2 separate regions of the Homo sapiens genome follow, and region 2 is linked to region 1. Evidence: fine-mapped expression QTL. A gene starts in region 1. The other region holds a variant in brackets. All regions are shown on one strand. Distances are from middle to middle.

The links. PIP is the estimated chance that this variant, and not a neighbour inherited with it, causes the effect.
Region 2: its variant is the best candidate, but not a certain one, in a credible set for the expression of RFC5 in whole blood (TOPMed, PIP 0.75).

What each region holds. Positions count from the first base shown.
Region 1 is chr12:118,015,373-118,018,281 of GRCh38, reverse strand. It overlaps RFC5 (replication factor C subunit 5), which reads right to left and starts at 1,579. Exons shown (of 11, transcript NM_007370.7): 1 at 1,390-1,579. The coding sequence starts at 1,454. RefSeq lists a silencer at 1,288-1,337 and an enhancer at 1,702-1,871.
Region 2 is chr12:118,040,001-118,042,909 of GRCh38, reverse strand. It overlaps WSB2 (WD repeat and SOCS box containing 2), which reads left to right. Exons shown (of 9, transcript NM_018639.5): 4 at 1-69. It also overlaps a transcript of RFC5 not described here. Among named protein-coding and RNA genes, the nearest start is that of WSB2, 20 kb to the left of the region's middle. The variant C/T (reference allele first, on the strand shown) is at 1,197.

The DNA of each region.
Region 1 (2,909 bases):
TGGGCACCTACTATTGCAAAGTGCATTTGAAACTGAACTCCTACCCAAATAGACTTCAACAGAAGAATGGATAGGTAAAATCTCTTCTGTCCATACAATGGAATATGATTCAGCCATAACAAGAAATTAACTACTGATACAAGCAGCAACATGCATGAACCTTGAAAACATGATCCTGAGTGAAAGAAACCAGACACAAAAGGCCACATAGTGTAGGATTCCACTTACATGAAATGTCCAGAATAGGCAAATCCATAGATAGAAAGCAGATTAGTGGTTGCCAGGGGCTAGAGGAAGGGGAGAATGGGGAGTAACTGTCAATGGGTAAAGGATTTCCATTTGGGGTGATGAAATTTTGGAACTAGATAGCGGGAAGACTCCACAACAGTACACTGCATTCTGAATGTACTTAATGCCACTGAATTGTACATTTTAAAATGGTTACAGGATGGGCTTGGTAGCTCGCCTCTAAAAGTCCCAGTTCTTCGGAGGCTGAGGCAGGAGAATGGCTTGAACCCCAATGTTTGAGGTTACACTGAGCTGTGATCACACCACTGCGCTCCAGCATGGGCGACAGAGCGAGACCCTGTCTCTAAAAAAAAAAAATACGTAAATACATAAAATAGTTACAACTGTCAATCTTCTGGGTTTTTTTTAACCACAATAAAGACAAATTGAACTAGTTACTAGACAATGACAACTTGCAGCTTTTCGAAGCCAAGCCAAATTGCTTCAAAGTCTTGGAAGCATTGCGAGAACATAGCTGTTTAAGTAGGATGGTTAAGAGTACAAGATCTGAATTCAGACTTCCTAGATTCACCTCCAAGCCAATTTTCTCCCTTGGACCATAGGGAAGTCATTACATCTTTCTAAAATGCAGTTTCCTCCTGTGTAAAATTTGAAGCGGTGCCTACCTCCTACGGTCTTTGTAAGGATCGAACATCTAACAGGGCGTCTGCTAATCTAATAATATGCCATTCAATAAAAGTTGACCAGGGAGCGTTATTACTAGTTTAAAATGTGACCAATAGTCGCATCGCAGGTTTTGAAGAGTGGGAAGAGGGCATTTTGGCATGGAGGCCATTGCAGGCGTCAGGAGACGCGGGATCGAACCCCTGTGCTGTCACCAGGTGCGAAAGCCGCCTTCTTCTTCGGCAAATGGAGCTGGGGGTGAAAGGGTGAGAACTGGCAAAAGCCCTAAACAGAACGGACGAGTCTGGGTAGCTGGGGGGTGTCGGGGGAAACCTCTGCAGGTCGGTCCCGGCTGCAGGCCTGGAGACGACGGGAAGAGGTCGGGTTGGGGTCCGGTCACCTGCCACCCCAGCCACCTCCTCCCCGCGCGGCCGCCTGGCCCCCTCTGCCCACCGCCGCCGCTCGGCCTCCTCCTACCAGGGCAGGTTCCTGATCTTGGTCGCCGCGGGCTGCTCCTGCTGCTTGAGTGCTGAGGTCTCCATGGCGGGGAGACGAAGGTGACCAGATCCGCTGAGATCGTCGCGTCACCCAAGCGCCTGCACAGTGACCAGCCGCGACCTGACCCTGAGACCCTGGCACTTACAGTTCGCGCGCAAAAGCAACTCTCGCGAGACGCGGCCACCAGTTTCCGACTTCCTCCCTCGGTCCCGCCCCCTCGCGTTGCTAGGGCGTCGGTTGCTAGGTTACCGGAGGCGCGGGCCGCCAGCGTCCCTCCAAGCTCCGCCCCTCCAGCCTGCTCTGAACTCTCAGATACCCAGGCGCTTCCAGAGCAGGGCAGCGGGAGAGGCAGGGCCCCCTGCAGCCCCAGTCATCATTACATATTAAGATCTCAAGGCCAAAGCCAATTCCTGCCATCGCCAAGCTTCAAACACTTAAATTCAAAGGAACAAAAGCTGCCGGGGCTCAAAAAAAAAAAAAAAAATCTAAGAAAAAAAACAACACCGAGTAAAACGGCTGGGTCTTGAATATAGATGCCTTTGCGAAAGAAGGCTTGAGATACCTCTCGGCCCCCAAGCTGGGAGGTGAATATTTGGAAATGAAAACAACCCCAAACAAACACAACTGCAACCTACCTATCTCCGGAATCCGTGCCCCTCGCCCAAAAAGTTTAGGGAACCAACCTCCAGAAAACGACTCCAGAGAAAAACAAACAGAAACTTCCAGTTGGGTTAATCTGTGTCGCTGGAAGGTCTAGTTCATGAACACAGAGGACAAGGTCCTTGTGATCTGAGATACTGAGGAGAATCGATATCAACATTTTAGGTTTTTTTCCTGAGGCGAGGAGAATTCTAGATCACTTTTATTTTCTTCTTTTTTGTTGGTCTGTATTTTCTTTTCTTTTTTTTGGTGTCTTGCTCTGTCACCCAGGCTGGAGTGCAGTGGCGCTATCTCGGCTCACTGCAACCTCTGCCTCCCGGGTTCAAGCGATTCTCTGCCTCAACCTCCGGAGAAGCTGGGATTACAGGCGCGCGCCACCACGCCTGGCTAATTTTTGTATTTTTAGTAGAGATGGGATTTTGCCATGTTGGATAGGCTGGTCTCGAATTCCTGACCTCAAGTGATCCACCCGCCTCAGCCTCCCAAAGTGCTGGGATTACAGGCGTGAGCCACTGCGCCTGGCCTGGTCTGTATTTTCCAGCAATGAGCATGCAAAGCATCCATATTGAAGTCTTTTCTTTTTTTTTTTCTTTTAACATGATGAGGAAGACAAAAATCCTGGAGGATTTTTGAGGCTGGCCTGGGGTCAGCAGTGTTCTGATTAGGAGGTAGCAATACTCTTTGCATAGGATTACATCACTGTCACCTGCTTCAGGAACACAGCAGAGGGACAGTGGCAAGTATGTGATGGCAGTTATGGCTTCACCCTAGCCCCTGCCTGGGGACCCCGAAGAAGGGGATCAGCTAGGGCTTGTGATGTGACAGTGCCCCTACTCTGC
Region 2 (2,909 bases), 25 kb before region 1:
GTGGCAGTTTGATTTTGGTCTCCGCGTCACGGGATAAGACTCTTCGCATCTGGGACCTGAATAAACACGGTATGGGAAGTGAAGGAACTACTCGGCAACTCCAAAAATACTGTATTTGCTTTCTCCACTTTACCAGTGTCATTTTTATCTAAAACAGTGTTTCTTGATGTTTTTTTCTGTGATTGCCCCTTAAGGAGCCTTTTAGACAGTTTTTTCCTAATCGCCCCTGCCCGCCCCAAAGATAATACTATACCAAATAGAGTTTAATACCGAACATATACTGTGTGTCTATTTAGGCTATTTTAATATCGAAGATATATTGTATATCTACTTATGTGCTGAATGCATGTCTATGCTTTGTATGTAAAAAAATGTTAAGATTTTTTTGGCTACCAAGAACTAGTTTGTACCCTCTTGGGGTGAATTGCCCCTGTTAAAAATATTTGATCTAGAACAGGTTTTCTCATCGGCACTATGGATATTTTGGGCTGGATAACCCTTTGTCGTGGGCTCTCCTGTGCATTCTAAGACACTGAGCAGCGTGCCTGGTCTCTTCTCTTTTGATGCCAGTAGCATCCTCTCCAGTTGTGACAAGCAAAAAAGTCCCCATGTCCTGTGAAGGGCAAGGTCTCCCCAGGTTGAGAACCACTGATCTAGAAGTCCCTGTTGGGTGCTTCCTGTTAGAAAGAAAGACTTTCTTTTTGAAGCAGACTCTAAGCCTAGAATAATTCTCTCAGGCTATGGGGCATCAGGTTTTGTGAAATTCTGCCTCGAGCAAACTATATACAGGGGTGGCCCAATAAGGAATTCCATACATTTCTGGATTGATCCTTAACTAGAAAGGTGATATAAGAGGCCAGGCACAGTGGCTCACGCCTGTAATCCCAGTACTTTGGGAGGCTGAGGCGGGTGGATCACCTGAGGTCAGGAGTTCAAGACCAGCCTGGCCAACATGGCCAAACCCCATCTCTACTAAAAAATACAAAAATGAGCTGGGCGTGGTGGTGGGCGCCTGTAGTCCCAGCTACTCGGGAGGCTGAGGCAGGAGAATCACTTGAACCTGGGAGGCAGAAGTTGCAGTGAGCTGAGATCGCATCACTGCACTCCAGCCTGGGCAACAGAGCAAGACTCTGTCTCAAAAAAAAAAAAAAAAAAAAAAAAGTGACATAAGAGAGGGGAATTTATTGCAATGCCAT[C/T]TTTCAATTCCTCCAGCCCTGGATGGGGCTCAGGGGCTGGAGGGATTGGAAGGAGGCAGTGGTAAAGGGTCATGAAGAGGATCAGGGGCTGGAGGGATTGGAAGGAGGGTCATGAAGAGGCCACTTGTCCCCATGGTGTGAAGGCACTGGCACTCTCTCCCAAGCTATGACTGTCCAGCTCCACACAGCCATGGGAGGGACCTTTCTCCTGCTCTTTTAGCAATGAGCCTGAAAACTTGTATCTTAGTCAATGCCAGAGACTGGGTGGCTTAAACAACAGACATTTATTTCTCACAGTTCTGAAGGTTGGGGAGTCCGTGAGCGAAGTGCTAGTAGTTTTGGTGTCTGTGAGCACCTGCTGCCTGGCTTGTAAACAGCCACCTTCTCTCTGCATCCTCATCTGGCAGGGATCTCTCTCTTTCATGTCTCTTCTTCTAAGGGCACTAATCCCATTCCTGAGGCTTCACCCTCATGACCTATTGACTTCTCAAAAGCCCCGCCTCCTAATACCATCACATTGGGGATTAGGGCTTTATGTGTGGGGGGCACATTTAGTCCATAGCAACTTGTCAGACAAACTAAGGCAGTGCACATGCATCCTCATCTGAAGGCATCTGATCACCAAGATAACTCTAGGTGTTTTTTTGGTTTGTTTGTTTTTTCTTGAGACGGAGTCTCACTGTGTCACCCAGGCTGGAGTGCAGTGGCACGATCTCAGCTCACTGCAACCTCCGCCTCCCAGGTTCAAGTCATTCTTGTGTCTCAGCCTCCCAAGTAGCTGGGACTACAGGCGTAAGCCACCATACCTGGCTAATGTTTTGTATTTTTAGTAGAGACAGGGTTTCACCACGTTGGCCAGGCTGGTCTCAAACTCCTGACCTCAAGTGATCTGCCTACCTGGGCTTCCTAAAGTGCTGGGATTACAGGCGTGAGCCACTGCGCCTGGCCTACTCTAGGTGGTTTCTGCCCAGTACTGTGGAACCTGTAATCCCACAGTCTAAGATGTGCTGCTGATCAGGACAGCTTCTCCAAGGCAGTGCCTCTTTTTTTTTTTTTTTTGAGACAGAGCCTCCTCCAGGTGTGTGCCACCATGCCTGGCTAATTTTCGTATTTTTAGTAGAGACGGGGTTTTGCCATGAAGGTCAGGCTGGTCTTGCACTCCTGACCTGAAGGGATCTGCCCACCTCGGCCTCCCAAAGTGCTGGGATTACAGGTATGAGGTACCACGCTCGGCTGGCAGTGCCTTTTTAAATGCTGGCTTAATGTGTGTACTGAGGCAGCTTGCCACCATCTCAGGAAGGTCCATGCAGTGGCTCTGGAAATCACTTGATGACTTGGAAGGAAAGACCAAGTGAGAGTGACCAAGAGTGGGCGGGATGGAGTAGGCCAATTATGAGAGCTTTTCAAGGAGAGGAGGGGAATAAAGTTGGTTCCCAGCTGACAGGCGCTGCCCCACTGACCTAACATGCCTTAATTTATTCAGTACTCCCAGCACCCTGAGATTTGACAGCTGAAGAAACCATGATTGACCTTTATTTTTTGAGACAGAGTCTCACTGTGTTGCATGGGCTGGAGTGCAATGCTGCGATCTCGGCTTATTGTAGCCTCTGCCTCCTGGGCTCCAGTGATCCTCCTGCCTCAGTCTCTGGAGTAGCTGGGACTACAGGCACCATGACTAACTTTTTAAAAATATTAATTAAAGCACTTTGGGAG